3 separate regions of the Homo sapiens genome follow, and regions 1 and 2 are each linked to region 3. Evidence: fine-mapped expression QTL. A gene starts in region 3. Each other region holds a variant in brackets. All regions are shown on one strand. Distances are between the middles of the regions. Region 1 holds the start of BMP8B (bone morphogenetic protein 8b). Region 2 has its middle 18 kb from the start of MYCL. Region 3 holds the start of MFSD2A (MFSD2 lysolipid transporter A, lysophospholipid).

Region 1 (10,558 bases), 170 kb before region 3:
ATGGTGCTGCTCTCATAATTACCGGTCCAGGCCTCAGACAGTTCTGGACCCCAAATTAAAAGGGAACACCCACACATGCCTCCACATCAAGCCCGCCAAGGCCAAGAATAGATCCCAGGAGATGTAAGCAAGAAAGACGCAATTCCTCCAGTGAAATCCCGGGAAAGAATGAACTGTGGGAATTTTCCAGAAAGAAGTGGTCATGGTGACGCATCCTCTCTTGCCTATGGGAAAGAGGTTCCGGGAGGAGGGGGGCTGGGTGCACCTCCCCACCCTGTGCCTCAGCCCGGAAGAGCCCCCATCAGCAGGCAGGGGGTGGGCACATTCTTTGGTCAGACCTGGAAAGGCCTTCAGGCAACCCTGCAGAGATGGGGAAACTGAGGCCAAGGAGGGACAGAGGGTTTCCAGGGTTAGATTAGAGGCCCGTGTCAGATTAGAGGCCTGTGATGTGGATGTTCACACTTGGGGCCAGTGTGAAATGAGTGGCCCTGGAGTTCAATGGGACATATTGGGATGGGGGTCACCCGTCAACAAGGCCCTCCTATCAACAGACACCCGAGAATGCCCGTGAAGCCACCTTCCTCCAGGCAGGGCCCTGTGGGGACTTGGGGTTCCAGGGGAGGGCCCAGGGAGCTATGGCACCCATTGTCGGCCCGCACACAGACAGGGAGGGCCGGCCCTACTCTGTCCCACCTGACCAGACCCAGGCTCCTCCCTGCTCTTGGCACTCGCTGCCTCCTGCTGGGTTCCTCTTTCCCTCAATTTCCTGCCACTCAGGGGCTGGGTGCACCATGGGGGGTGCCAGGAAGAGTCACACTTGGTCCCTATTCTCAGGTTGTTCAGAGGTTGCTGGGGAGGAGGAGAAAGAGGGGCTAGGTGAGCCCCTGCATCACATAGACAGAAAGCGACTGGAATCCTAAGAGAAGTGCACACAATGCAGGACAGGTGCTTCAGTGACGGTCGCAGTCACATACAGGGCTTTGGAAGAAGGAGGCAGAGAAAACTTTCCTTGAAAACATATTCAAGAGGGGTGGAAGAACTGAGGAAGAGAACTGAAGAGTCACCCAGGGAAAGGCTGAGAGGCGGGAGATGCTGTGCCAGGTCACACTTTTTAAGCACTGACCTGTGTCAGGCACCATGCTGGGCACACGTGGTACGTCCTTTCTGTTCATGCTAACCTGACTGTGTTAGTTGTCTGTGGCTGTGTAACTCATTATGCAAATGTAGCAGTTTAAAACAACAAACACATATTGTTGCACATTGTTCTTAGGGCTAATAATCCAGGAACTTAGCTGGGTAGGTCTGGATCAGGGTCTCTTATGAGGTCACAGTCAAGCTGTCAGCTAGGGCTGCAGTCTCTGAAGACTTAGCTGGGGCTGACGGATCCACTTCCACGCGCTGTCTTTAGCTGCTCACCATGTGGCCCTCTCCATAGGGCTGCTCACCTCATGGCCTCCCCCAGAACGAGGCATCCGAGAGATGGAAGCCATGGTCTTTTATAGACTAATCCTGGCAGGGACCTATCACCACTAGTGTCATATTCTATTGGTCACACAGACCAGCACTGGCACAGTGTTGGAGGGGACACAGAACTCTGTGCATCTCAGGAAGTGGGACCATCGAGGGCCATGGTGAAGGCGGCACCATGACAACACTGTGGGGGACATTATTCATCCCAGGTTATAGATGAGAGCACTAAAGATCCCAGAAGTTAACTGATTTGCACAAGGCCACAACTGGAAGCATCCAAGGTGGGATTTGGGTCAAAGTCTGTCTGGACTCCAAAGTCTACATTCACTTCTCCTAATCCACGACCTCTCCAAGCTGCAGATATGTCAAGGGAGCACCAAGCGGTGCAGTTGACTAGAACGCTGAACTCTGAATGCCAGGCTGGGGAAACGTGAATTCCATTCTGGCTTGAAGGGACACACAGAAGCTCCTGAGCAGGAAAAGCCATGATGGGATTTTCACTTCAGGAACTGGCATTTCAAAAACATGCAAGAGGCCAGGCGCAGTGGCTCACGCCTGTCATCTCAGCACTTTGGGAGGCCAATGTGGATGGATGGCTTGAGCCCAGGAGCTGAAGACCAGCCTGGGCAACATCATGAGACCTCGTCTCTATAAAAAAATGTTTAAAAATTATCTGGGCATGGTGGTAGGCACCTGTACTTCCCAGCTACTTGGGAGGCTGAGGTGGGAGGATCACTTGAGTCTGGGAGGTTGAGGCTGCAGCAAGCTGTGATCGCGCCACTGCACTCCAGCCTGGGTGACACAGCGAGACCCCATCTCCAGCCGGGAGCCATGCCTCCTCTCCTTTGGCCTTGTTTGTCTCCCAGAAAACGAGAGAAGGATCTTGTCGGTCTTCTGAACTGTTGAACCCTCACACCCATGTTTGCCAGGTGGGTGAATGGACATTTCTTCCATTTGGGGATCATTTATATTGAGTTGTCTTTGGGCTTCTCTTTCTCAGTAAATGAGCAGACTTTGGGTTGGGCTGGGGCTATACTTTTATTAGCCCCCAAGATAAACAGGAAGAGGAACAGCACACAGTAGGTTTGCAGCAGTGCTTGCTAAGGAGTGTTCATAGACTGCTCTTAAAGCCCTGAATGAGTCAACTTTCTCCACACCCAGGTCTTGCAGCCATCAACTTCCCCAGAACCCTGATGTGTGCAGGGTCCAGGACTGTTCAGAAGGAACGGCTGCTACTCAAGATAGAGCCAGCAGTTAAAGGAAATCACCAACTTTTGCTTCTGGTCTTGCCACTAACCAGCTGGCCTTGGGCTAAAAACAAATAAAGCTGACATTTATTGAGCACTGACCAGCCACTCTTTTCATAATTTTACACAGATTAACTCATTTAATACTCCTAATCATCTAATGAGGTAGCTCTCCCATTTTACAGATGAGGAAACTGAGGCTCAGAGCATTAAATAAATTAGACCATAATCGTGTAAATTGTATCTTAGGTTAGGCTCTCTGGGCAACAGACACTGGGTCGGAAAGTTTACTGGGAAAACTGGAAAGTTTACTGCTTTTTGTAGTGAATGAAGGGAGCAAGTTTTGGATGCACCCACAACAAAGGCCTCAGACAACTGAGACCACACTGGGAGCTCTGGGGGCTGGTGGCCCTTTAGAGCTGTCTCTCTTTAAGGCAAGGGGGCTGGGCACTGGTACTGCCATAGACCAGCTGTTGGATGGTGGGTGTCCCCAGGGATGGTGCCTAACCTTGGGCAGTTCTTTAGGCCCAGTCAATCAATACCTAGAGAAGGGTAGGGCGTGGTGGCTCTCGCCTGTAATCCCAGCACTTTGGGAGGCTGAGGTGGGTGGATCACCTGAGGTCAGGAGTTCAGGATCAGCCTGACTAACATGATGAAACCCCATCTCTACTAAAAATACAAAATTAGCCGTGCGTGGTGGCGGGTGCCTGTAATCCCAGCTACTTGGGAGGGTGAGACAGAAGAATTGCTTGAACCCAAGGAGGTTGCAGTGAGCCAAGATCGCACCATTGCACTCCAGCATGGGTGACAAGAGCAAAACTCCATCTCAAAAAAAAAAAAAACAAAAAAAACCTAGAGAAGGACTCCCCTGTGAGCTGTCAGCAGCCGGCACTCCAGGCAGCTGGGTCACGAGCGACTCAATGCTGAAGAGAAGCTCTGGGAAGCCCCCCACAGCATCCACTACAAGGATGCCTAGGTGGAATGAGGATCTCACCCAGGCAGCCTGGTCAGATTCTGGAGCTATGCTTTTTACTACTCTGCTCTAGGTCCCTAAGTAAATGACTGGGGGATGGGGCATAATCCGCAGGCCCTTCCCTCATAATACAGCCACTTATTGAGCAGTGCCAGACACTTGCTTTGTTTTTGTTTTTGTTTTTTTTTGAGATGGCATTTCGCTCCTGTTGCTCAGGCTGGAGTGCAATGGCGCGATCTCGGCTCACTGCAACCTCCACCTCTTGGATTCAAGCAATTCTCCTGCCTCAGCCTCCCAAGTAGCTGGGATTACAGGCGCCTGCCACCACAGCCGGCTAATTTTTGTATTTTTAGTAGAGACGGGGTTTCACCATGTTGTCCAGGCTTGTCTTTAACTCCTGACCTCAGGTGATCCGCCCCCGCTTGGCCTCCCAAAGTGCTGGGATTACAGACGTGAGCTTCCGTGCCTGGCCAGACACTTGCTAGGTTTTTATGTGCCTTAACCTATTTAATCATTGTATTATGATACAGGCATTATTATTATTATTTAGACAGAGTCTTGCTCTGTCTCCCAGGCAACCTCCATCTCCCAGGTTCCAGCAATTCTCTCGCCTCAGCCGCCTGAGTAGTTAGGACTACAGTCCCGCGCCACCATGCCTGGCTAATTTTTTTTGCATTTTTAGTAGAGACAAGGTTTCACCATGTTGGCCAGGCTGGTCTTGAACTCCTGACCTCAAGTGATCCGCACACCACCACACCTGGCCGGATACAGGCATTATTATCCCAGTTTTAAAGATGAGGAAACTGAGATGCCGAGACTTTAAATGATCTGTTCAACAGCTCATAGCTCTTAAGCAGTAGACTCAGAATTGAAAGCCAGTGAGCCCCACTCCAGGGTCACTAACCACCACTCTGCTGCCCCACTTCCAGGGCCTACCCTCCTACAGCTGTGATCTACCTTTCATATCTGCTCCTGTGGGTCTGTGCATCCAGGACCCGGGGCCAGTCACTTACACTCTTTGAGACTCAGCTTCCTCCTCTGTGAATGAGGGCAGTCATAATCATTTACTCAGGGGTGAGAAAACACTGCGGAAATGGGTAGGACCAGTCACTAGGGATGGAAAGGGTGCACCATTCTGGTGGCCAGACAGAACTTTGGGGAAAAGGGACCCACCTTCAATTATTGCAAGGACAAATACCTTTGGGCATACAGTCACCCTAATAGTTGACTTTTAAGATGGATAAAAGATTTATTGTTAAATGAAAAACAACAAAGTTGCAAAACAGTGAGCATTAACGTA[T/C]GCAGTTAAAAAAAAGAAAGAAAAGAAAACGCTGGGCACAGTGGTTCATGCCTGTAATCCCAGCACTTTGGGAGGCTGAGGCAGGAGGATCAGATGAGGCCAGGAGTTTGAGACCAGCCTGGGCAATATAATGAGATCCCGCCTCTACAAAAGATTTGAAGCAATTAGTTGGACATGGTGGTGCACACCTGTAGTTCTAGCCATTCAGGAGGCTGAGGTGAGAACATTGCTTGAGGCCAGGAGTTTGCAGTTGCAGTGAGCTATGACCATGCCACTGCATTCCAGTCTGGGTGAAAGAGCAAGACCCTGTCTCTGAAAATAAAAACATATTTTTTAAGCAGTAGTCTCAGTTTACATCACACGTTCCCATTCAACACAGTCCATTTCAGCAGCACACACTGCATTTAACGGTGGGCCAGGCCCTGGGCTGTGTGGAGAGGCAGCTGCTATTTTGGAGAAGAGCAGAAGATGTGGAGGCAGGGGGACAATCTGCTGTGTGGCCTTAGGAAAACCACCTATCTGCTCTGAGCCTCTCTCTCCTCTCTTTCAAACACAGATGTGACGGCAATTGTGAGATACCAATGAAGGAAGAGATGCAGAGGTTCTGGGCACGTGGGCATCGCTGGGTATCATCTCACACAAGCCCACAACAGCCCCATAAGATGAGTATCTCCATTTTACAGAGGAGGAAACTGAGGCTTGGGGAGGTTGACTGGAAAGCCCAGATCACACTGAGATCAGGTGTTGGCGTCAGGATGCAAATTCCTTGTGTGTGGGTCTCAGGTCAGAAACCCCCAATCTAGCCCTGTCTGTCCTGCCATTGTTCAGCCCCTCCTGTTTCCCGATGGGGCGTTGCTGTCTAGCACACCCGACAATTACCTTTAGGGCTCATGTATGTATTATGTGTCTCTAGACTAGAAAGTCATCTCCCTGAGGGCAGGGACTTTACTTCTCTCATTGTTATATCCCCAGCAACTAGAACTCTGCCTGGTCCGTGGTAGGTGCTACAGAACTATTTGCTGAATGAATGAATGGGAAAATGAAAGAGGTCCCTGGTAAAGAACCAAAGGAAGTGGCCCTGGGGCCCACGGAGATGGTGCCACCCTTCTAGGTCACACGGCTGGCAAGGGCAGAGCAGGACCCGGGCCAGGTCCCGAATTCCCACTCAGTCCTGCTTCTCCCAAATCCAGACGGCTCTGTTCATCAACACCCCTGTCCATGGCCACCGGAGACCACAGGAGCAAATCTGTCTGGTTCAGGAAGGGATCAGGACAAAAATGAAGCTGCCTGCATTCTGATCCTGGCTGGACTTCTGCCTGCTAGGCCTGCTTATGCCTCAGTTTCTCAATCTGGAACATGGGCACCTGCCTCTCTGCTGAGATGGGTGGAGAAGGATTCAGAAGGAGTGTGCAGAGGTGGTCCTTCCTGCCATCCTTCCTCCCTCAGGAGGGGCCGGGCTGCCCTGAGGCACTGGGGCCAAGGCATGGCGGTGTTGTGAGAAGGCGCCTCTGCCACAGAGCCACAGGGTCAGGGCTGGGAGGCACCTTGCTTTTCTGATGCCATCACCGTAGAATGGACGAGAAAGCAGAGGCCCAGGGAAGGGAAGGGCCGTGGCTCAGGACATGCAGGAGTTAATGGTGGGCCCAGGCAGCACAAGAACCTGGGTCCTGCCTCCCAGCTCAGGGCTCTCCCCTCCCTGAGCACAGAGAGACCAGGGACAGAATCCAACCGCTCCATCACTGTCCTGCCCAAGAGAGCCCAGGTCTACAGGCTGATATGGATGACAGGCCAGGCAGGGCCCCGGCTCTGACCCCAGCCCTGGCCTCCCAGTGCAGGCTCTGAACATCAGGACGCAGGCTTGGCTTCCTAAAGCACCTGCTCTGCACGGAGACCTGAGCCATGGTGGGAGGCCTATGAGAGCCCCGCCCCCTGGGTCCCACAGGCTGCCATCAAGAGTTGGGCCCTACGGGCACCAGACCTGGCTATTCAGGAGTCAGATGAAGCTGATAGGAGAGGTGGAGCCGGCAGGAGCAGGTGTGGGAGCCTGCGTGTGGGCGGTGACACCACAGTGACCCTGCTATTAGATCCCGTGGTGGCCTCTGCCCACATGACTGTAATCTCAGCTACTCGGGAGGCTGAGGCAGGAGAAGGGCCACCAACCTCCAGGGGCCTCCAAACATGGAGAGCATCCTGGTATGTGTCTAATCCATGCCCCCCCACCGCCCCACCCAGCCTCAGTAATTACCAGTTAAAGCTACTCTAACTGAGAGAGTTCTACTAGTGCAGTTAGCACAGCAGAATAAAGAAGGCCTTTCTGACAGCTGGCTGCGCCCACCCACAGCCTGGGCTTCCACTAACAATGATCTGCTTGTTAATCTCGCAGCGCTGGAGGCCCCAAGTCTTCATGAAATGCACAAAGCTGGTGTGGGAAGAAGCTGGGATTTGAAATCCACAGCCGTGGATGTCACCCCGGATGTGCGGTGTGGCCCTGGGCTGGCTATTTAACCTCTCTGAGCCCATGAAACAGGGCTGGCAAAACAGTCTCACATGAGTTAAATGAGGAATTGTAAGGCTGTGAAAGTTCACATGCTACTTTTCATTCTAAAAACAGGTACAAACACTTTTTGATTGGCTTTTAGAATCCATTTCTAGGTTTTACATGTGTATAAGACATGTGGAGATGTTCCTGTCACCTCCGAACTAGGCCACAGCTGGGAGGGCCTGGGGCCAACAGTGCCCAGGTCCAGGTTCACCCTCTGAGGGGAGCAGCACAGGCTTTCTACTCCTGCCCCTCTACCAATCACACAACAACCCTGAGGACAGATCACCAGGCACCTCATTTTACAAGGAGCAACGAAGGCTGAGAGGGTGAGGAACTTTCCTAAGGTCACACAGAGGGGTAGGCCCTGCCCAATTCATAGCAATAGCCCCACCAGGCTGTGCATGCCTTGACCCAGGGGATGCCAGGGGAGGTCGGATGTGGGCTGGGTGGTGACGCATTCTGATGGGCGGCTCCCTGGGGACATTCTTGGACGACTCCATCCACAACTCTTCTTGGTCCTGAGCCCAGTGTCAGCCTGTCCTGATGACAGAGCCCCAGCCCCAGCTTCACAGATGGTCTCCTCTGTCCCACATCCCCACCCTGTCCTCTAACTACAAAGGCAGCATCCAGATCCCACCGGCTAGAGTCCTGTCCCTGGCACTGGGCGCTCAGTGATGGTGAATGGCTGCCTCCTGCTGCTCGCCTCCACCACCAGCTCTGGGTTGCGGGAAGCAGAGGCTTGGCCATGCCCTCTTCTGTCCTAGTGTAGGAAGCAAATGGCTGATGGCCCCACAAAACCTGCTGCGGCTCAGTCCCCTGTTTTCCTCAGCCCAGACTCCTCAGAAAGGTCTCTGCACCTTGAAAGCCTGACCTGACAACAGAAATGTCATCTCTTTGAGCCCTGGATGGACAGTCAGGCTTCCTGGGCCTGTCCTGGCTCAGCAGCGTAGAGGCTGCGCTGTCCTAGGCATGGCGCTGCCTCTCTGAGCCTCACTGTCCTCATCTGGGAGATGGGGATGAAGACCGTGGCTGTTATCAGGGTTGTCGGGAGGATGAAGAATTAATGATGCTGTCTGTGGAGGGAGGCTGATGGCCGGGGCCAGGGACCCTCTCCCTCCTCTCAGCCCCACAGCTCCCCGACTTTGGGCTGATCTGTGGTCCTTGGTTCCCCAGACCCCAGACTGTCACTAGCCACAGACAGGAGGCAAAGCAGATGGGTGACCTGACCAATAGTAACTACATGACCATAGACCAAAGAGTTTAGTACTGGAAAAAAAATCTCTGAGATCTTAGGGAATAAATAGCTCCAGGGTTTGATACAAGATATTTGCAGACAGGAAAAGCCGGGCTTTGCCTGGGAGAACAAAGTGGGTCCAGCTGCCCACTGGACCATTCCACAGGACTGGACACTCACCCCATACCAGATCACATCCCAGGTGTTGGGCCCAGGGTGACAAGGCAACAGTCCCTGCCCCAGCGAGCTGAGTTTGCTCCTTCCCCAGCCGCCCCCCTGACAGCCGCACCCCACCCAGGCTCCGCACAGAGAAGAGCCTGCTGTGGACTCAGGGCACGCGACTCAGCTCTGGTCACTCCGATGTGACCACAGGTTTCCACGCTGAACTTTGTCCCTCTCCTCAGTACTGCCCTTATCACAGTGACAGCATCCCGGCCTCTGTTTACTCACCTGTCTCCCCAGGACCAGGCTGTCTTCCCGGGGCAGCCCAGGTGGGCAAAGACATCACCTGATTCTTACTCCTGGGTGTGTTTGGGGCAGGGTGAAGGCAGCGCCTGGGAGTCCACAGTCCCCCACACTCTGCTCCTGACCACCCCGCAGCCCAGGGGGCCCCCATGACCCTTAGACCTTCCCTAACCACGGCGGTCCCACTCCCCTGTGGTTCGCGTCCACCGTCTGTGACTCCCCGTTCGGCCAGGGCCCGGCACAGCCCGCGGATGCGCGCCCCTCCCCTGCAGCCAGCTTACTCCGAGGGTCCCCGCGCGGGCGGCCGCACTCACCCATGTTAACGAAGCTCATGACCAGGTCGGCGCGGCCCAGGCGCCGCTCCGCGGGCGCGCCGTCCTCGTCGTCGTCGCCGGCCATGGCGTGGTACAGGTCCAGCATGAAGAGCGGCGCGGACGCGGGCAGCCGGGAGGCGGCGGGTGGCGCGCGGGGCCGGGGCCGCCCAGGCAGCCCGAGCACCGCCAGGATCTCGCGCTGCACGTCCCGGCGCTCGCGCGCGCCCAGACGTCGCTGGGGACAGCCGGGCGGGGGTCGCAGGCCGGGGCCGCCCCCGCCCAGCGCGCATAGCGCCAGGCCCAGGAGCCAGAGCGGGCCGGGGAGCGCGGTCATGGCAGGCCGGGGGCGCTCAGCTGGGGCGCTCAGCGGGCGCGCATCGGCTCCGCGGCCGACCCAGGGCCTGGGGACGCCCCGACGGCAAGGAGGCTGGGCTCGGCGGGCGGCGGGCGGCGGGGCGGGGCGGGACGGGCGGCGACCGCGGCCTCAGCGCGGTCCCTGGAGCGCCCGCCGCGCGACACCTGTCCTGGCTCCTGGACGAGAGGACGCGGACGCCACCGCCTCGAGGCCGGGGCTACTCTGCGGACTGGGACTCTCGGCCAATCCGTCTGTCGCCGCCGTACCCGCCAGTCCGGCTGTGGCCGCGGTCCGAGCAGCGCAGGGGCGATGGGCGAGCTCCTGCAGCCACCCGCTTGGTGCGGTTCCCGCGAGTCCCTGCCCTGCCCTGCCCAGCGGTCCGCGTCGCCCGCCCCCACCCCGGGACTGACCAATGGGGGGGCGGGGGCGGGGCCTGGGAGCGGGGGCCACGCCTGCGAGGGGGCCCGGGGCTGCGGCCGGTGTCGCGGGTGGGGAGACCCCGAGGTGCTACCTGGGCGTGGCGGGTGGGCAGGCGGCCCGGGCGAGGGGCTCGCAGCCTGGGCGTCAGCGTGGTCATGGCCGTCGTGGCTTCCGCCGCGGGCCTCGGCGCAGAGATCCTAGGGCCGCGGCGCCCTTCCGGTCCCGCCAGTGGTGCCAC
Region 2 (10,558 bases), 34 kb before region 3:
TTTTTTTTTTTTAGACAGGGTCCCACACTGTTGTCGAGGCTGGAGTGCAATGGCATGATCTCTGCTCACTGCAACCTCTGCCTTCTAGTGGGCTCAAGCAATCCTCCCACCTCTGCCTCCTGAGTAGTTAGGATTATAGGCATGCACCACCAAGGCTGGGTAATTCTGTATTTTACCAATTTATTTTATGTTATTATTATTATTATTATTTGAGATGGAGTTTCGCTCTTGTTGCCCAAGCTGGAGCGCAATGGCATGATCTTGGCTCACTGCAACCACTGCCTCCTGGGTTCAAGTGATTCTCCTGCCTCAGCCTCCAGAGTAGCTGGGACTACAGGCGTGTGCCACTATGCCCGGCTAATTTTTGTATTTTTAGTAGAGGCAGGGTTTCACCATGTTAGCTAGGCTTGTCTTGAACTCCTGAACTCATGTGATCTGCCCGCCTTGGTCTCCCAAAATGCTGGGATTATAGGCATGAGCCACCACACCCGGCCTATTATTATTTTTTGATACGGAATCTCGCTTGTTGCCCAGGTTGGAGTGCAGTGGCATGTCTCAGCTCACTGCAACCTCTGCCTCCCAGGTTCAAGCAACTCTCCTGCCTCAGCCTCCTGAGTAGCTGGGATTACGGACACATGCCACCACATCCAGCTAATTTTTGTATTTTTTAGTAGAGACTGGGTTTCACCATGTTGGCCAGGCTGGTCTAGAACTCATGAACTCAGGTGATCCGCCTGCCTCAGCCTCACAAACTGCTCTGATTACAGGCATGAACCACTGTGCCTAGCCCTAATTTGTGTATTTTAGTAGAGACAGGGTTTCACCATGTTAGCCAGGCTGGTCTGGAATTCCTGACCTCAAATGATGCGTCCACCTTGGCCTCCCAAAGTGCTAGGATTACAGGAATGAGCTACCGTGCCGGGCCTTCTTGTGGTTTTGAGTTGCATTTCTCTAACAACTAATAATGTTGATTATCTTTTCATGTGCTTATTGGCTGTTAATATATCTTGTTTGGATAAATGTCTATTCAAATCCTTTGTCACTCCCCACTTTTTTTTTTTTTTTTGAGACAGGGTCATATTCTGTCACCTAGGCTGGAGTGCAGTAGCACCATCACAGCTTACTGCAGCCTTGACCTCCTGGTCTCAAACAATCCTCCCCGTTCAGTTTCCTGAGTAGTGTAGCTGAGACCACAGGCATGTGCCACCATACCTGGCTTGCTTATTTATTTATTTGAGATATTGTCTCGTTCTATGGCCCACACTGGACTGCAGTGGCATGATCATGGCTCACTGCAGCCTCTACCTCCTGGGCTTAAGTGATCCTTCTACCTCAGCTTCCTGAGTAGCTGGGACTAGAGGCCAGCCACCACACCCAGCTAATCTTTTTTTTTTTTTCAACACACAGTCTCACCCGGTCGCCCAGGCTAGAGTGCACTGGCTCTATCTTGGCTCACTGCAACCTCTGCCTCCTGGGTTCAAGTGATTCTCCTACCTCAGCTTCTCGAGCAGCTGGGATTATAGGTGCATGCCACCATGCCCGGCTAATTTTTGTATTTTTAGTAGATACCCAGATCTTACCATGTTGGCCAAACTGGTCCCCAACTCCTGACCTCAAATGATCTACCTGCCTCAGCCTCCCAAAGTGCTGGGATTACAAGTGTGAGTCACCATGCCTGGCCCCAGCTAATCTTTTGATCTTTTGTAGAAAGGAGGTCTCTCTATGTTGCCCAGGGTGGTCTTGAACTCTTGGACTCAAAGGGTCCTCCTGCCTGGGCCTCCCAAAGTGCTGGTATTATAGGTGTGAGCTACCACACCCAGCCACCTGGCCCATTTTTAACTGAGTTGTCTTTTTGTTGTCATGTTGTAAGAATTTATTATATAGTCTGGATACTAGACTCTTTTTATAAAATTTTATATATTTTTAAGAGCCACTCAGAGCTCAGTGTCAGTGGGGATAAAACTGGATACTAGACTTTATTTTTTTCTTTTGAGGTGGTGTCTTGCTCTGTCACCCAGACTGGAGTGCAATGGCGTGATCTCCACCTCCCGGGTACAAGTGATTCTCCTGCCTCAGCCTCCAGAGCAGCTGGGATCATAGGCGCCCACCACCATGCCTGGCTAATTTTTTTTTGTATTTTTAGTAGAGATGGGGTTTCACCATGTTGGTCAGGCTGGTCTTGAACTCCTGACCTCAGGTGATCCACCCGCCTCAGCCTCTCAAAGTGCTAGGACTACAGGCGTGAGCCACCGCGCCTGGCGTTCCTTTTTTTGTGTGTGTGCTCGTAAATTAAAACAATTTCTTCTAATCCACTTGCTGTCATTTTAGTGGAATTTCAGGAGTGGAGATAAGCACATGTGAACAATCTTCATATTTAGCCAGAAATTTGTTCTTCCATTTATTTATTGATTGATTGAGATAGGGTCTTGCTCTGTCACCCAGCCTGGGGTGCAGTGGCACAATCTTGGCTCACGGCAACCTCCACCTCCTGGGCTCAACGGTTCTCCCACCTCAACCTCCGGAGTAGGTGAAACTACAGGCACACGGAACCACACCCGATTAATTTTGCATTTTTAGTAAAGACAGGGTTTCACCATGTTGGCCAGGCTGATCTTGAATTCCTGGACTCAAGCGATCCACTTGCCCAGGCTCCCAAAATGCTGGGATTACAGGCATGAGCCACTGCATCTGGGCTGTTCTTCCTTTTAAGCTGCAACAATTTCTTTTCTTTTCTTTTTTCTTTTCTTTTCTTTTCTTTTTTTTCTTTTCTTTTCTTTCTTTCTTTCTTTCTTTCTTTCTTTCTTTCTTTCTTTCTTTCTTTCTTTCTCTTTCTCTCTCTTCCTTTATTTCTTTCTTTTCCTTCCTTTGATGGAGTCTCGCCAGGCTACGGTTCAGTGGCACGATCTTGGCTCACTGCAATCTGCACCTCCGAGGTTCAAGCGATTCTCCTGCTTCAGCCTCCCAAGTAGCTGGGATCACAGGCATGAGCCGCCATGCCCAGCTAATTTTTGTATTTTTAGTAATGATGGGGTTTCTCCTTGTTGACCAGAATGGTCTCGATCTCCTGACCTCGTGATCCGCCCACCTTGGCCTCCCAAAGTGCTGGGATTACAGGCGTGAACCACTGTGCCCGGCCAACAATTCTTATTTTCATTAGGCAGATTCCTGATCCAGGTTGTCTGAGAGGGCTTTCTGGAGGAGGGAAATTTGATCTGATCCATAAGATGTCTAGGATTTTAGTGGAAGTAAGGAGGTGAAGAGGGGAGAGGAGGAGAAAAAAGATTTAGGGAGGGGAGAGTTAGGAAGAGGAAGGGCTCTGGAGCTGGCCCCAGAAGAATTAACCAGGTGTAAAATCTGGTTTCTTATCCTATATCTGTGGCTCTGTTACCTTGGCTTGGGTTTCACTGCAAAGCTGTGCTTTCCTTAGAACCCTAAGGAATGTGGCCTTGCTTTAAGTTCAGTGAAAAAGGGGTTCAGGAGATCTTGTGTCTCCCTCTGCAGCCAACCTGGGGAAGGGACCAGGCTTAGAGAGAAAACAGCAGCTTTCAAGAACAGGCCAGGAGTGGTGGCTCCCGCCTGTAATCCCAGCACTTTGGGAGGTTGAGACAGGCAGATTACCTGAGGTCAGGAGTTCCAAGACCAGCCTGGCCAACATGATGAAACCCGTCTCTACTAAAAATACAAAAATTAGCCGGGTGTGGTGGCGGGCACCTGTAGTCCCAGCTACTCGGGAGGCTGAGGCAGGAGAATTGCTTGAATCTGGGAGGCAAAGGTTGCAGTGAGCCGAGATCACGCCATTGCACTCCAGCCTGGGTGAGAAGAACAAAACTCCATCTCAAAAAAATAAAAAAAAAAAAATAAACAGAAGTAGGATGAAGGAAAAACTACTCTGAAGCAGTGTTACGGTGAGCAGGCTTGTACTGACCCTTAGTTTTCTCATCTCTAGAGAGGTTTTTTCCTATCTAGCAGCATTATTGGAGAATTAAATTAAACTGCAAAGTTTTAGCACAGTGCCTGGCACAGAGGAGAATTCCAAAAATGTCAGTTTTCTTCTCTTCTTCTTTTTGTTTTTTTAATTTTGAGACAGAGTCTCGCTCTGTTGCCAGGCTGGAATGCAGTGGTGCGATCTTGGCTCACTGCAACCTCCGCCTCCCAGGTTCAAGGGATTCTCCTGCCTCAGCCTCCCAAGTACCTGGGACTACAGGCATATGCAACCATGCCCAGCTACTTTTTATATTTTTAGTAGAGATGGGGTTTCACCATGTTGGCCAGGATGGTCTTGATCGCCTGACCTCGTGATCTGCCCACCTCGGCCTCCCAAAGTGCTGGAATTACAGTTGTGAGCTGCCGCACCTGGCCTGGACATTTAAGGTAAACAATCTGGGTAAGGTCCCAATCAAGGCCCTCAAAGCCTGGCTAAGGAACTTGTACTAAAGCTGAAAGCATTGGAGAATCATAGGAGGCTTGTGAACGGAAGAGTGACAGATATATCTGTGCTTTGGAAAGATCACTTCTGGGAGAAAAGAGTCCTGGTGTAATGCAGGATGCAGCATCCTGAGCCCCAGATCTGCATCTAACAGACTCCATGGTTTCATCTTTGCCCAACACATGAATGGCCTCCATCAGTGTTTCCCCAGTGGGCTATGAATTGTGTGAGAGCTTGATTCCTAACACAAACTGAATCTTCCAGTTTACCTTCTCAGAGATAGAGCTAATTAATTGCAGGGGTCAGGGTCAGGCGGGGTATTCCCCAAACCTGAAGG[G/A]CTAATATAGCCAGCCTGAGCTGCCACACAGAGGATGAGATGGGATTTCTGAGCAGCTCTGGAGATTGTGATAATGACTAAAGCCCAAGGAGGCCCTCCTGGCACTCCCCCTCACGGGGACATAATACTAAGTGACTTGTGCTTGAGGGCAATTGTGAGACTGTTATGTACCCTTTTTAAGGTACTTTTTTTTTTTTTTTGAAGTGAAAGCAAGTTTATCAAGAAGGCAAAGAAATAAAAGAATGGCTATTCCATAGGCAGAGCAGCCCCTTAAGGTCTTAAGGAGGATTGATGACAAACTTCCTCCGCACCCTTCTTAAGGTGCTGAGCTCTGGGCACAGGTGGAGCAAGATAATCACCTGGAAATAACAATTCTGTCCACTAGAGGGAAACCCAGTCTAGAGAGATGGGGAGGGAAACCCAGGCTAGAGAGATGGGGAGGGAAACCCAGGCTAGATGCGTGGGAGCCCTGAGGCTGGAGGAAACAGAAGGAGCTGACGGCCCCAGGAGCCAGTGGACCCAGTGATCTAGGTTCAGTGCTGTGCTGGAACTGGCTTGTATCAGCTTAGTGAGAATTGACTCTTGCATTTTCAGGAATCTTGAGAGCTGGTTGGTAAACTTGGTCATTAAATATTAAATTATAGCTGGGCACGGTGGCTCACACCTGTAATCCCAGCAATTTGGGACGCCCAGGTGGGAGAATCGCTTAAGCCCAGTGCGAGACCATCCTAAGCAACATAGGGAGACCCTTGTCTCTACAAAAAAATCAAAAAATTAGCCAGGCATGGTGGTGTGCACCTCTAGTCCCGGCTACTCAGAAGGCTGAGATGGGAGCATCACTTGAGTCTGAAAGGTCCACGCTGCAGTGAGCTATGATTGCACCACTGCACTCTAGCCTGGGAGACAGAGCAAGACCATGTCTCAAATTTAAAAAAGAGAGAGAAAAAAAAAAAAAAAGGCCAGGCATGGTGGCTCACGCCTGTAATCCCAGCACTTTGGGAGGCCAAGGCGGGCGGATCACGAGGTCGGGAGATTGAGACCATCCTGGCTTACGCGGTGAAACCCCATCTCTACTAAAAATGTAAAAAGTTAGCCGAGTGTGGTGGCAGGCGCCTGTAGTCCCAGCTACTCGGGAGGCTGAGGCAGGAGAATGGTGTGAACCTGGGAGGCGGAGGTTGCAGTGAGCTGAGATCATGCCACTGCACTCCAGCCTGGGCAACAGAGCAAGACTCCGTCTCAAAAAAAAATAAATAAAAAATAAAATTAAAATTAAAAAATAAAAATTATAATGTGTCATGGAATTAGGGCACAAAATTAATAAAGTAAAAATTAAACTATATAAATTTACATTTAAATAAACTATATTGGCTGGGCATGGTGGCTCACACATATAATCTCAGCACTTTGGGAGGTCAAGGTGGGCAGATGACTTGAGCCCAGGAGTTTGAGACCCACCTGGGCAACAGGGTGAAACCCCATCTCTACAAAAAATACAAAAATCAGCTGGGCATAGTGGTGAGCGCCTGTAGTCCCAGCTACTTGGGAAGCTGAGGTGGAAGGATCACTTTAGCTTGAGAGATCGAGGCTGCGGTGAGCTGTGATTGCGCCACTGCGCTCCAGCCTAGTGATGGAATGAGCCCTTGTCTCAAAAATAAATAAATAAAATAAAAATCAATCCCTAATTATTTTATTATGTTTTACTATTATCTGCCTATCATATCAGTTATGGTGAAAGTACTATGTAGTGGTTTGCTACTGTCCAACTTCAACTTTGATTTTTTGTTTTGTTTTGTTTTGTTTTGTTTTGTTTTGAGATGGAGTTTCATTCTTGTTGCCCAGGCTGGAGTGCAATGGCGCGATCTTGGCTCACTGCAACCTGTGCTTCCTGGGTTCAAGTGATTCTCCTGCCTCAGCCTCCCAAGTAGCTGGGATTACAGGTGCCTGCTGCCACACCTGGCTAATTTTGTATTTTTTTAGTAGAGACGAGGTTTCACCATGTTGGCCAGGCTGGTCTCAGACTCCTGAGCTCAAGTGATCCACCCGCCTCAGCCTCCCAAAGTGCTTGGATTACGGGCGTGAGCCACTGTGCCCGGCCCAACTTCAACTTTGGTAGCTTGCAGTTGGTCATGGCAGATTATTTACTTCATGGAAACCCACAAATGCTACAAATCAGGGTTCCCCACCTCCTGCCGCCCACCTTCCAGTTTGTTAAACATTTGCCAGGCTATCGCTGCTTAGGCATCCCCACATCAGGTGTTATGGGGAGGACATGGAATTTTCCAGAGGTCTTGCTGACACAGACACACTCAGAGATATCCCTGTGGAGGGAGCACCCCATTTCAGCTGGTAGAAGTTGTTGGGGGCATCATGGGAGCATTGTTGTGTTGTTGCAGGAACGTGACCTGGAAGTTCCCACCCTGACTCCAGCTTTGCGCAACTGTTCCATCCACCGGAAATTGGTCTATACTTAAGTGCTCAGGCATCCCTTTCTGTCTGCCTAGCAACGAAGTAAGGTTGGTGATCATCCAGTGCTAGAACGATCATCCCCCATCAGAAAGGAAGCTTTATGAAGGGCAGGGAAGCCCCCACCTCGGTTCATATCCTCAGGCCTGGCTCAAGTCCCTGGGCCTAAGTATTGGAGCCGCCACACAGAAAACCCAGGAACAAGCAAGACACTGGAGTTAGGCACATCTAGGCTGCGCCACCCCTAACTGTGTGACCTGAGAAAGGCACCTAAACCAAACTGGTCTTGTCTCCTAACCTGTCAAATAGGGAGATTCCTGCTTATCATGCCTGACCGTGGTGAAGATTAAATAGGATCATCCATGCAAAACTCTCAGCTGGGCGTTTCCATCACCTAGAAGGTGTTCCATGATGTCAAAGCTATTATTGTTTTCATACTTGGGATGGGGAGTGCCGAATTCAAATCGGTTCTGAGTGCGGGTCTACTCTGACACCCTGTGTGTCAGAAGGAGGGGCGGGACTAGGAGGCAACAAATCCATTACAGCACAGTTGGCAGATGTGTCCAGTCACACAGCCGGGAAGTGGACCAGGGACTGGACAGCAGCCCTCCGCCCAGGACTCGGCCAGATGTTCCAAGCCTAGCAAGGGGCGCTTCTACCCCCACCCATCCTCCCCGACAACCTAGGCCTGTGGCTTGGAGGAGGCAGAGGTGGGGGTCGGCAGCCGGACGTCGCAGGCCCCAGGCTGCGCGCAGGAAGCGGCTCCAAGGTTGTCCTAGAGCCTCAAAGCGGCGGAAGGGAGGGAGCAGCCGGCACCTGCATTGTGCGAGCCCCGCTCCCCGCTGAGCTTCTGTGACCTCTGGCTCGCGCTCTTGGCATCCGCTGCTGGGGCAGGGCCCGCGGCTTTCAGACAGGTATTAACCGGGCAGAGGATACTAGATCTGCGCTGGCTTTCATTCATTCACGCATCCACTCATTCGTGCATCCATCAGTTATCGAGCTGCGGCAGGAGTTAGTGCACAAAAACATAGTCCATGATCGCAGGGACCATACTCCTGCTAAATCATGGAGGTTTGGGGAGTTCCTTCAGACTCTCAGTAAACTTATTCGTGGAGGTCTGATTTTTTTTTTTTTTTTTTTTTTTGAGACTGAGTCTTACTCTGTCGCCCAGGCTGGAGTGCAGTGCCGTGATTTCATTTCACTGCAACCTCTACCGCCCAGGTTCAAGCGATTCTTGTGCCTCAGCCTTCGGAGTAGCCTAGCTAATTTTTGTATTTTTAGTAGAGATGGGGTTTCGCTATGTTGGCCAGGCTGGTCTCAAACTCCTGACCTCAGATGATCCGCTCGCCTCAGCCTCCCAAAGTGCTGGAGTTGGTTACAGGCATGAGCCACTGCGCCTGGACTGATTGTCAACATTTAAAAGTTATGAAATTTCATTTAAAACTCAGATTTTGGCTTCTTTTGAAGGGATTGAAGATCTGAGATGCTTGTGTTATATAAGTTGCTGATGAGTGTCATGCTAGAGAGGGCCGGGTGCGGTGGTTCACGCCTGTAATCCCAGCACTTTGAGAGGCCAAGGTGGGCAAATCACCTGAGGTCAGGAGTTCGAGACCAGCCTGACCAATATGGTGAAAACCCGTCTCCACTAAAAATACAAAAATTAGCTGGGAGTGGTGGTGCACACCTGTAATCCCAGCTACTCGGGAGGCTGAGGCAGGGGAATTGCTTGAAGTCGGGAGGCAGATGTTGCAGTGAGCTGAGATCACCCCACTGCACTCCAGCCTGGACAACAAAGTGAGACTCCGTCTCAAAAAAAAAAAAAAAAAGAGTGTTATGCTGGGGGCAAGGGGCTTTTTAAAATAATGTAATACATTATTTTAAATATTATTTGTAGCCTCTTGCAAAGTGGTGTTAGTTGTACAATAAAAAACTCTTAGACAATTTCCCTGTTACAAGGGTCTGAAAAGCAAGTTTATTTTGAAAGGCGGATATTTTATTTAGTTGTGATTTTTTTAAATTTAATTTTATTTTTGAGACAGGGTCTCATTCATTAATTTTATTTTTGAGACAGGGTCACCCAGGCTGGAGTGCAGTGGTGTGATCTCAGCTCACTGAAACCTCCGCTTCCCGGGCTCAGGCAATCCTCCCATCTCAGCCTCCTGAGTAGTTGGGACCACAAGCACACACCACTACGCCTGGCTAATTTTTTGTATTTTGGTAGAGACAGGGTTTCACCATGTTGCCCAGGCGGGTCTCAAACTCCTGAACTCAAGTGATCTGCCCTCCTCGGCCTCTCAAAGTGTTGTGATTACATGTGTGAGCCACCCAGCCCAGCCTTATTTAGTTATGATTCTTGATTGCCTGATTTTTAAAATGTTGCTTTCTGGAAATAATCTCCTTCTCCTTCTCCTTCTTAACAAGGTCTTGCTCTGTTGCCCAGGCTGGAGTGCAGCTGTGCCATCATAGCTCACTACAGCCTCAAACTCCCTGGCTAACTGATCATCCCACCTCAACCTCCTGAACAGCTGGAACTACAGGGATCTACTACGTTACCCAGGCTGGTCTTGAACTTCTGGGCTCAAGCAATCTTCCCACCTCAGCCTCTCAAATTGCTGGGATTACAGGCGTGAGCCACCACACCTGGCTCTGAGACATCTAATGAAAGATTTCTCAAACATGTCAGAATGAGCTGGTTATGCCATCTGAGTCCCCTGAACCAAGGAAAAGATTTGTAGGCCTTTAGGTTTGCATAACTGGAGGTTAGAGGGCAGAAGTTAGTAACTGGGTGGAAGAAGTGTTTATCTCACCTGAAAGTAGAGTGGAGATGGAGAGAAGGGGCAGACAGGGGACAGGTATTTAGAAGGAAGAACTGATAGGATGTGGGGTCTGGAGGAGAGAGAGGAGACAAGGTTGACTCTTGGGTTTCTGGCCTGGGAGAATGGGTGGAAGGAGGAGCCATTCACTGAACTGAGGATCCAGAGGAGGAGAATGGGCTTGCTTTTAGCTATGTGGGGTCTGCAAGTCTGGGTCAGCAATGAGGAGATCAGTGGAATATTGGGGCTCTGGTGCTCAGGAGAGGAAGCTGGGCTTAAGATTCACCATTGGTAAGACAGAGGCTCTGGGGAGTGGTAAAATCACCCTCACTGAGCTGTCTGCAAAGAGCCAGAGGCCTAGGATGCACAGTGAGGATCCATTTGTATTTAAGGGATTAAAGATGTGTGGCCAGGTGCGGTGCCTCAGGGCTGTAATCTCAGCACTTTGGGAGGCTGAGGTGGGTGGATCACCTGCAGTCAGGAGTTCAACACCAGCCTGGCCAACATGGTGAAACTCCA
Region 3 (10,558 bases):
GTCTCGCTCTGTCGCCCAGGCTGGAGTGCAGTGGCGCAATCTTGGCTCACTGCAAGCTCCGCCTCCGGGGTTCACGCCATTCTCCTGCCTCAGCCTCCTGAGTAGTTGGGACTACAGGTGCCCGCCAGCACACCCAGCTAATTTTTTTTGTATTTTTAGTAGAGACGGGGTTTCACTGTGTTAGCCAGGATGGTCTCGATCTCCTGACCTCGTGATCCGCCCACCTCGGCCTCCCAAGGTGATGGGATTACAGGCGTGAGCCAACGCGCGCGGCCAACTCTCCCTTTCTTTTTCCTCTTAGTTTCATCCCATCAACCCTATCAATGTTTTCTTTCTTTTTTTTTTTGAGATAGGGTCTCACTCTGTCACCTGGGCTACAGTGCAGTTGTGTGATCACAGCTCACTGTAACCTTGACTTCCCAGGCTCAGGTGATTCTCCCACCTCAGCCTCCTGAGTAGCTGGGACTACAGGCACGTGCCACCATGCACGGCTAATTTTTAATATTTTTTTGGAGAGACAGGTTTCGCCATGTTGCCCAGGCTGGCCTCAAACTCCTGGGCTCAAGCGATCTGCTTGCCTTGGCCTCCCGAAGTGCTGGGATGACAGGCCTGAACCACAACGTCTGGCTAAATGTTTTCTTTATTCATCTTATTTCTTAATAACCGTTTAAAAATTTCAGTCTTCTTAGGATGAGTCTTTTGACTCTACCTTTTGCCTTTTCTCATTCTCTTGTTAACTAACCTTATGCTTTCATTAGCATCTCTAAGACCCATGAATGGAAGCTGAGACAGCAAATTTGAACTGCTGTTTGATTCTGCAGGAGTAAGCTTACATGGGGTGCCAGTGTAGAAGAGGCTCCTTTAACCACAGCACTTAGCATGACTTGGGTAATGGGCATCTTCAGTGGGTGAATGTCCCTGCCATCATAAAGCCAGTCCCATATGGCTTGCATATGAAGCATATGGGCTGCTTCATCTGGGGTGGTCCCCTTGGCATTTCTAGGTGGAGTTGGACAGTCCCCGCTTCTCAGGGTAAATAGATATTATAGTGGCTTTTATCCAGTCCACTGGATAAAACCAGTCCAAGGCTGGTCATTCCCTCAGAAATACATCTTTTGTGTGTCTGAATCACATATACCCATCTGCCATTGTTCAGTAGTGAGCTGTGGGTCCTGCATCAACCCAAACAGGCTCTTCCACTCCGCAGCAATTAAAACCAAAGATCCTGCTCCTAAACTACTTACTCACAGAATTCATTTTCGTAAAAGTTCCTCAGGAAGCTGATGATAAGGATCTACAAAATGGAATAATTCCTTCACACTATGCCCTCTGGTTTCAATAGTTACTTGGTTTTGCCCTCCTCCCACAGTGATTACTTTCTTGGTAAACACAAGTCTTAGAAGTACTTTCTGTTGTCTCTGCATAATTCTGCCCTGTGGGGGCAGCTTTGAGGCTGGTGGCCTAAATTCAGACTGATTGAGGTCTAAGCTGGTCTAGCACCAAGGTCTCACCCAGCATTCTCTTTTAATTTCACGTTAGCCATTACAGATAATAACCAAGGAACTGAATATTTAGCTTTTTTTTCTTATTAATTTGCATTTCCTTATGCATGTAGTCAATCAACTCCCTGGGAGTTGGAGCCATCTCTAAATTTCCCTGGTATCTTTGACTTTTAGTACCTAATCTAGGTACATACTACGTGTGTCCCTGTGGCTTCATACTATGGGTGAGCACATGGCCACCCAGGAATCAAAGGTTCCTCATCTTTCATCTTTTTGTACTTTCTTTTCCCAAACCACATGTTTCCTTGAGCCTGGATCAGCCCAGAATATCCCACTCCTGACACCAGTTGTTTAGGAAAAACCTCTCAAACTGTGTTTTTCCTCTACTGTCACACCACCATCACCACAATCACCAACATAGAAGAATGATCTGACCACGGGTATGGGTTTTCTTTTTTCCCCCCACACACTAAACAGTGGACACCAGCTGGGTGTCCTCTCATTCAATTCCAACACTACCTACCTGGAGATAGTATCAGATCTCATAGGTGGAGGGCTCAGTTCCCAAGACTGTCTCCTGAACCCTAGACACCAGTCACAACGCCAGGCCTCTGGAACTTCTGACAAGCTGGCTTCAAATTGAGGTTCCCATGATCCCCTCTTTGGGTTGGATTAATTTGCTGGAGTTATTTACAGAAATCAAGGAAACACCCATGTTGACTGGTTTGGGATACTACAAAGGATAAAGATGAAGAGATGCATAAGGTGAGATACGGAGGAAGGCTTGTGGAGCTTCCATGCCTTGGCTGGGACATTACCCTCAGGAAGCTCTGTGTATTCATGCTAGCCAGAAGCTCTCTGAATCCAGTCTTCTCAGAAGTTTTTTTTGGCTGATCTCAGCTCACTGCAACCTCTGCCTCCTGGGTTCTCCTGCCTTGGGCTCCTGACTAGCTGGGACTATAGGCACACACCACCACGCCCAGCTAATTTTTGTATTTTTAGTAGAGATGGGGTTTCACCATGTTGGTCATGGCTGGTCTCGATCTCCTGACCTTGTGATCCGCCTGCCTCGGCCTCCTGAAGTGCCGGGATTATAGGCGTGAGCCACCGCACCCAGCCAATTTTTTTAAAACTTAAAAATTAGACAGGCATGGTGGCACATGCCTGTAGTCCCAGCTACTCAGGAAGCTAAGGCAGGAGGACTGCTTAATATACTAGTCTGTTTTCATACTGCTATAAATAACTGCCTGAGACTGGGTAATTTATAAAGGAAAGAGGTTTAATTGGCTCACAATTCAGCATGGCTGGGGAGGCCTCAAGAAACTCCAATCATGGCAGAAGACAAAGGGAATGCAAGGCATCTTCTTCTTTTTTTTTTTTTATTTGAGACAGTCTCGCTCTGTTGCCCAGGCCGGAGTGCAGTGGTGTGATCTCGGCTCACTGCAACCTCCGCCTCCTGGGTTCAAGTGATACGCCTGCCTCACCCTCCCAAGTAGCTGGGACTGCAAGCGCGCACCACCACACCCAGCTAATTTTTGTATTTTTAGTAGAGACAGGTTTCACCATGTTGACTACCCTGGTCTCAAACTCCTGACCTCAACTGATCCACCTGTCTTGGCCTCCTAAAGTGTTGGGATTATAGGCGTGAGCCACTGCACACAGCTGGCATCTTTTTCACAAAGCAGCAGGAAGGAGAAATGCTGAGCAAAGGGGGAAGAGCCCCTTATATAACCATCAGATCTTGTAACAACTCACTCACTGTCATGAGAACAGCATGGAGGAAACCACTCCCACGATTCAGTCACCTCCACCTGGTCTCTCCCTTGGCATGTGGGGATTGTGGGGGTATGGGGATTATTAGGATATAATTCAAGATGAGATCTGGGTGGGGACACAAAGCCTAATCATATCACTTGAGCTGAGGAATTCAAGGCTGCAGTGAGCTATGATCGTGTGTGCCACTGCACTCCAGCCTGGAGGAGAGAGCAAGACCCTATCTCTAAGAAAATAAAATAAAAATAAATAAAATGAGGGTAATAAAAACAACTCTCTCCAGTGGTGTTGTTGGGACTAAATGAGATATAAAGAAAAAAAAACAGAAGTAAATGAGATAGTATATTTAAAGCACTTATGGGGCACGCTGCCCAGCATACCAGTGGCTGCTTGGTATTTGGGAGCTGTTGTATTGGCGGTGCCGTGATTCAGTTAGTGGTGACAGTGAGTGTCTCTAGTGCTGTGTTATGGGGCTCTGTCCTGACCAACAACATGGCTGGTGGAGTTGAAGTTGCAAGGGACAGCCAGATCTAAATTTAGAGTGAGAGAAAACAGTGAGCCATAGAACCAGCATCCACAACAATTTCGACAGGCTGGAATAAGCAAGATGACATTGTTCTGTTGTGAGCCTCAAGACATTACAGAAAGCAGAGGATCGGGGAGAGACCTGACTTGACCCCAACTCCGGTGAAAAGGATCTGAATGATTTAGTTGACCACAACCTGATGGGAACTAATCATGGGAGAGAAAGGCTCTGAAGCCCAGCAGTCTTAGGCTGCATTAACAATGTGTCGCATCCAGACTGGAAAAAATAATAGGCCTATTGTGCTGGCTTGGTCAGGCCATATCTGGAATCTTGCGTTGCTACACTGACAGACTGGAATCAGGCCAGGAGGGGGACCAGCCCAGCTTCAGCTCCCAGGCACTTGTGCTAAATGCTTCCTGTGCATTTTCTTGTTTCATCCCCAAAACAAATCTATTAGGTAGCTACTATTAATTTTTTTTTTTTTTTGAGACAAGAGTCTTTGTCTGTCACCCAGGCTGGAGTGCAGTGGCACGATCTCGGCTCACTGCAACCTCCGCCTCCTGGGTTCAAGCGATTCTTCTGCCTCAGCCTCCTGAGTACCTGGGACTACAGGTGTGCCCCACCACACCCGGCTTATTTTTGTATTTTTAGTTGAGACAGGGTTTCACCATATTGGCCAGGCTGGTCCGGAACTCCTGACTTCGTGATCCACCCACCTCAGCCTCCCAAAGTGCTGGGATTACAGGCGTGAGCCAGGGTGCCTGGCCAGTAGCTACTATTAATATCACCATTTTACACAGGGAGGTTAACTGAGTTGTTCAGAGTCAGCCGCACAGCTAGTAAATGGAGACACTTAGGGCTTTTCCTAATGGGTTTCTGTGTGCTTGTACCTTAGCAGGGGAAGACTGAACATTCATTCACTGAACACAATAATTCAGGCCCTAAGCTAGTTGGTGGGGACACAGAAGTGAAAAAGATGCGGTTCCTACCTGAGGAGCTCATTGTCAACCGGGGGATACAGATCACTTGTGGTATGGTGTGACTGTGGGAGAGAAGATTTGGGGGCTGCAAGGGAGCTTAGCTAACCAAGCCTGGAGAGGGGAAAAGAGACAGAACAGTGTCACACAGCTTGGAGTAATGGGGCCAGCCATTCCCTTTCCACAGTATTCAGTGCCTCACTTTGGCTCTCTTCTGCTCAGCAATGGCCAAGAGCTGTGTGCCCAGATGGGATCTGCTGGCGTATGAGGGAGCATGGTGTGACCATCCTGGGGCAGATAGACCTTATCTCTCCTCCCTGCAATCAGAGATTTAAAGAAAGGAAGAAGGAGGCTGACATTAAGGAGCACAGGAACCGGGTGGGTAGCCTTTGAGAGTTCCAGCAGCCCCTTCACTAATCAGAGAACTGGAAAGACCGGGGTGACATTGACATAAGGGACTCAGAGGTGGAACTAAAGACTGTTCTTTTCTGGCATCCGTGCCTGCCTTCTGTTCCAAACTAATGCCCTCCCATCTTCTTTTGAGGACCACATTTCTGGGCATTCTCTTTTTCAAAACTTTCCCTGTTTCAACCCTCAGTGCCTCTGGAGCCATGTATCTCCCAGGGCTTCTTGTTGGGAGACACATACACCCCATTCTGCCGTCTGTAATTTATGCTAAGAGGGATAGAGCAGGGCTGTTGAGAGCAACTGCTTTGGTATCGGACAAAACCTTTCAGGCCTGGCTCTGCTACATAACAGTTGCTTCACTTCTCCAAGTTTCCCCTTCCTGTGCTGTAAAATGGGGATAATAATAGTACCACCCTCACTTGGTGGTTTTTGAGGGCCGAAAGAGATCATATTAAGCATGGAGGAAGCTATCCATAAAAAGGCCACTGTTGTCATAGTGTACTAGCGGGCGTAGCCCCGGCTTCTCTCCACGACTTGGGAGCTCCCTTCTGGCAGGGGCAGCCACTGGATTGCCTCATCTTTCTCCCCATTGCCCGGATGCCAAGGGCAGGACGGGGGAATGGTGTGTCTTCGGGGATGAGAGAGAGGCATCAGGAGGGAAAGTGTCAGCGTACGTCCTCTAGGCTTGAAGAAGGAGAGAGGCCCTGACTCCAGATTTTAAAGTGGGCTTCAGAGCCCCTACCTTTCCTAGGCCTGGGGCTCAGAAGTCATGGGTGGTAGGCCCGACTCGGGGAGAGTCGGACCTTGGGGACCTCGGGGACCTCGGGCAGATCGGGGACCCCGGGCAGATCACTTTCAGCCTGGGGCCTCGGTTTCCTCGCGCGTGTCTGGGAGGTCTCGCGGCCTGCTTCTCGGATTGCTAGGAGCCAGCGCAGGCAGATGCCGGTTCCGGGGCTTGGAGAACGTGGCTCGGTGGCACAGAGCCGCCGGGCGAGGCGGGGGCAGGGAGGCGGGCGACGGGATTGGCTGGAGGCGGGGCAGCGGGGCTCGGGGATTGGCCGCAACCGAGAGGGCTGGGCAGAACTATAAGAGGCGCGGAGGGGGCGTGCAGCAGAGTGCGTTCCTCGTCTGCCAGCCGGCTTGGCTAGCGCGCGGCGGCCGTGGCTAAGGCTGCTACGAAGCGAGCTTGGGAGGAGCAGCGGCCTGCGGGGCAGAGGAGCATCCCGTCTACCAGGTCCCAAGCGGCGTGGCCCGCGGGTCATGGCCAAAGGAGAAGGCGCCGAGAGCGGCTCCGCGGCGGGGCTGCTACCCACCAGCATCCTCCAAAGCACTGAACGCCCGGCCCAGGTGAAGGTGAGGGCCCGGCACCCCGCGTGGAGGGCGAGGGGAGGGAGGAGGCGGAAATGGGGGATCAGGGGCGTCCCGGGGTCGGCCTGGTCAGGGGACCATTGGGATAGCCAGGGACAGGAAGCCTACGAGCCAGAGAGGACCTGGGGGTGCCCTGGGACAGGGGGTGACGGAGAAAAGCTGTGGGCGCCCTCGCCCCCCTTTGCTCACCCGCACTCCACGCTCTGCGGAGAGGCTCTGCCGGCAGCCCCATGTGATTCCCCGCTCTGCCTAGCCGGTTTCCATTCTTCCGTGTTGAGCGGCTGGGGCTTGCCGCCCCAAACCCCAGAGATGACCCCAGAAATCTGGGAAACTCCCCTTGGTTCCCCATCTCTCATCCCCTACCTCCCACTCCACCCACCTACTCTTGCGCCTCAACTCTGCTGTTAGGGCCGCTCAAGTTCATTCATAAGAACAAGAGCTCTGCTCTTAAAGGAGCCGCGTCCCTCAGGCATTTGTCTGAATGTGGATGTTCGCGCGGGAACGGTGCTTTGCGCATCGAGACCATCGACCACATCCCCAGCCCTGGGGACTTATTGAAGGACCAAATAAAATGAGGCGGCCCCCTAGGAAAGGATCTCAGGCAATAGATACCTTCGTGGGAGGTGACTGCCTTTTCCTTTTAATTTTATTAACTGATCTTTGGAAGGAGCTGGGTGAGCAATTATGCTGTTACTATGTATGAGTAATATCTACTTTCCCTGGGCAACCCAACCTCCCTAGTGCCCCACCCGGAGAGGGATCAGGCCTGAACCTGGAGGCCTTTCCTCCCGTCTCCAAGGTCCTCTAGGAGCTCAGGGGTGGAGGGCGATGGGTCGGGAAGCTGGAGAGTAGGACAGTTCCTGGGTCCGCCTGAAGCTCTGGCTGCCTATAGTGGTCAGGGATGCTCTGGGATAGGTGGAACAGCTGCGCCTGCAGCCAGCTGGGCCGGGCCCCCGTAGCTCTCTAGAGCTCTCACCAGGAGTAGGCAGGTGGATCCTGTCTCTGAGGCAGGGTGGGAGCCTGGGCTGGGCTCAGGCAGCTCTTGGCAGCAAGCGGATTTTCAGGTTGTGGCAGCTGGTGCCGGGTGGGGACAGGTCGGCTGCTGGAGCATGCTCCCCCTGAAACCTGGAAAGGAGCAGTGCCTGAGGCCTTGGGAGGAGTTCTTTAGGGATGGTGGGCTGATAAGTTTCCTTAGAATCTCCAGGAGGGAGGTGGCTTAGGGGCTACTTTCACACAAGTATGGATTCCCCTTTTCCATGTTCCTAAGAATGGAGAACACCTTTCTTTTGTATAAAGTGGGATCTCGGAGATCGAGACCATGCTGGCTAACATGGTGAAACCCCGTCTCTACTTAAAATACAAAAAATTAGCTGGGTGTGGTAGTGGGTGCCTGTAGTCCCAGCTACTTGGGAGGCTGAGGCAGGAGAATGGCGTGAACCCAGGAGGCGGAGCTTGCAGTGAGCCGAGATGGCACCACTGCACTCCAGCCTGGGCAACAGAGCAAGACTCTGTCTCAAAAAAAAAAAAAAAAAAAAAAAAAAAAAAGGTGGGATCTCCTGGATAGGAACAGGTCAAAGCAGAGTTGTTTGTTCTGGTAGAGCTGGCCAGAGGGATGGTCCTTCCTGTGGAACCTTCTTGGATGGAGGCCAGAACCTTGGGCCTTTCATCTTTTCCTCCTCTTCCCAGAAAGAACCGAAAAAGAAGAAACAACAGTTGTCTGTTTGCAACAAGCTTTGCTATGCACTTGGGGGAGCCCCCTACCAGGTGACGGGCTGTGCCCTGGGTTTCTTCCTTCAGATCTACCTATTGGATGTGGCTCAGGTGAGTGGTCTAAGCCTTCGAGGGCTCCTTCAGCATCCTGAGGTGGGAAAGACTATGCACCCCTGGGTCAGTTCGCTCAGTTTTCCCCATCTGTGAAATGGGACCCCAAATCACTACTTTGCTGCCTCTGAGTCAGTGAGCAAGAAATGAGAAGACCCTGGAAAGTATCCAGTAAAGGAGTGTCTCCACTCCAGGAGTCTTTGCTGGAAAGGTCTGGCAACTCCTCCTTGCCTGGCATGAGCAACAGAGCCTGAAGGGGTAGGCGGTAGAATGAGGGAGAATGGGGCCTGCTGGGGATGCTGTTCTTAGAAGAGACTGGCACACTGTGTTCCTGGCTGGGAGATAGTCAGCTGGCTTGACTCAGGGGTTGGTGGCTGTTGCCAGGCTTGTGGATGAGATGCATCCCACCTTTACCTGAGGAGCAGAAGGGCACTTAGGTGCCAGGCTAAGTTAGAATGCCCCAGTACACAGGGTCTTTGACTGGGAGGGGTACTTAGGGTGAAACAGGACTATTCTGTGCATTGAGAAGCCTTGGCCAGAAGCCTGGCATCCTGAGAATTCACCCTGTCTGGATGGGAGAGTGGGAGGCAGAATAGCCATGACTACCGGGGCTCCTGCACCAGCTGTCTTCTCTGTGTAGCATCTAACTTGGCAAGCATCGCATCTTAGTTGTATCCATTTACAGAGGGGGAACACTGAACTCCAGAAGGAACAAAAAACTTCAGCAGCTAATTTTTGAGTAACTCCCATGGGCTGGGCCTTGGGTGGGGTGTAAATATGAGGAACCTGCAGTCAAAGTGTAAACCTGTTGTAGTGGGTGTTAGAGCTGGGGTTGGGGGGTTAGACTAGGGAGACTATGGTATGGGGAAGAATACCCACTCCCCAGAGAAATAGCAATAGCAGGGCTTTGATGGATAAGGAGGAGTCTGGAGAGTCTGTATTTAGGGCCTGGGGGGTTTTGGGGCGGGGAGGGGGATAACTTGAGTGGGTAGTGACAAGTCCCTTTTTAAAAAGCATCTATAGGCTCCTTTTTCCACATCCAAGATAGAGCTTGAACCTGTAAGGTAGAGCTCATAACTCCCATTATACAGATGGGAACACTGAAGCACACTGTGTTCACCCCGTGAATGCTCATTCTGATATCAGGTGGTCAGGAGCTCAGGGCTGAGAGAGGGAGGGAAGGAAATGTTTGTGGATTCATTTGAATTGATGGGAATGTTTTCAAGGGCAGTGGAGGGAAGCAATTAAGGAGACAGAGCTGGGAAAGCTTCTAAGGAGGCACCCAGTGCTACTGTTATTGGAGAAATGCTATTGTCATTATTAACAAGGCAAGTGAAGATGTGTAAGGTCCATGTGGGAGCAGCTCAGGGTCACAAGATCCTGGCTGAGATAGGGAGGGAGCCTCTGCTTCTGCCTACCAGTGAGAGTTGAGGCGAGTAGAAGGATGAGGAAGTTGTCTTTTGCTTCTCCTCATTCCAGGTGGGCCCTTTCTCTGCCTCCATCATCCTGTTTGTGGGCCGAGCCTGGGATGCCATCACAGACCCCCTGGTGGGCCTCTGCATCAGCAAATCCCCCTGGACCTGCCTGGGTCGCCTTATGCCCTGGTGAGTAGAATATGCCCCTTCGAGGTGGCACAAGGCAGGACTTCCAGCATATCTGCTCCTTGGTCCTTCTCTCTGTCTTGTCACAGGCAGAAGGGTGAGGAGAAGGAAGGAGTTAAAAGCCCAAGGGTGTTGAAACCCCATCCGAGGCATCAGCTACCCTGAGCACGGGCACTGGCATGCTCAGCCAGTTCATTTCCAGGACAGCCAAAGTGCTAGGCTGGGCAGCTCAGGCCTCATTCCTCCCCAGGGTCCACTCATTCCCCTTGGTGAAGCTGGAATTCTGAATTCTCCCACTCTATCACTTCCTGCAGTGGCCGAGGTAGTACTTAAGAGTGGTTAAGCAGTTGTACTCTGGAGCCAGCCTGCCTGGGCTTATTTTATTATTTTTATCTTTCTTTCTCTTTCTTTCTTTCTATCTTTCTTTCTTTTTTTTTTTTTTAGAGACAGGGTCTCGCTCTGTCACCCAGGCTGGAGTGCAGTGGTGTGATCATAACTCACTGCAGCCTAGAACTCCTGGGCTCAAGTGATCTTCCCACCTCAGCCTCTCGAGTAGCTGCGACTACAGGCACGTGCCACCAC

The links. PIP is the estimated chance that this variant, and not a neighbour inherited with it, causes the effect. A credible set is the group of variants that fine-mapping cannot tell apart.
Region 1: its variant is the best candidate, but not a certain one, in a credible set for the expression of MFSD2A in whole blood (TOPMed, PIP 0.87).
Region 2: its variant is the best candidate, but not a certain one, in a credible set for the expression of MFSD2A in whole blood (TOPMed, PIP 0.77).

The regions. Positions count from the first base shown.
Region 1 is chr1:39,778,607-39,789,164 of GRCh38, forward strand. BMP8B (bone morphogenetic protein 8b) reads right to left here and starts at 10,259. Exons shown (of 7, transcript NM_001720.5): 1 at 9,546-10,259. The coding sequence starts at 9,879. It overlaps BMP8B-AS1 (BMP8B antisense RNA 1), which reads left to right and starts at 1,363. Exons shown (of 2, transcript XR_947220.3): 1 at 1,363-2,399; 2 at 2,632-2,818. LOC101929536 (a long non-coding RNA gene) reads left to right here and starts at 10,370. Exons shown (of 1, transcript NR_135805.1): 1 at 10,370-10,558. RefSeq lists enhancers at 138-638, 10,365-10,558 and a silencer at 10,211-10,558. The variant T/C (reference allele first, on the strand shown) is at 4,991.
Region 2 is chr1:39,914,533-39,925,090 of GRCh38, forward strand. No RefSeq gene overlaps it. Among named protein-coding and RNA genes, the nearest start is that of MYCL, 18 kb to the left of the region's middle. The variant G/A (reference allele first, on the strand shown) is at 4,764.
Region 3 is chr1:39,948,847-39,959,404 of GRCh38, forward strand. It overlaps MFSD2A (MFSD2 lysolipid transporter A, lysophospholipid), which reads left to right and starts at 6,299. Exons shown (of 14, transcript NM_032793.5): 1 at 6,299-6,539; 2 at 8,241-8,375; 3 at 9,855-9,979. The coding sequence starts at 6,447. RefSeq lists a silencer at 6,121-6,250.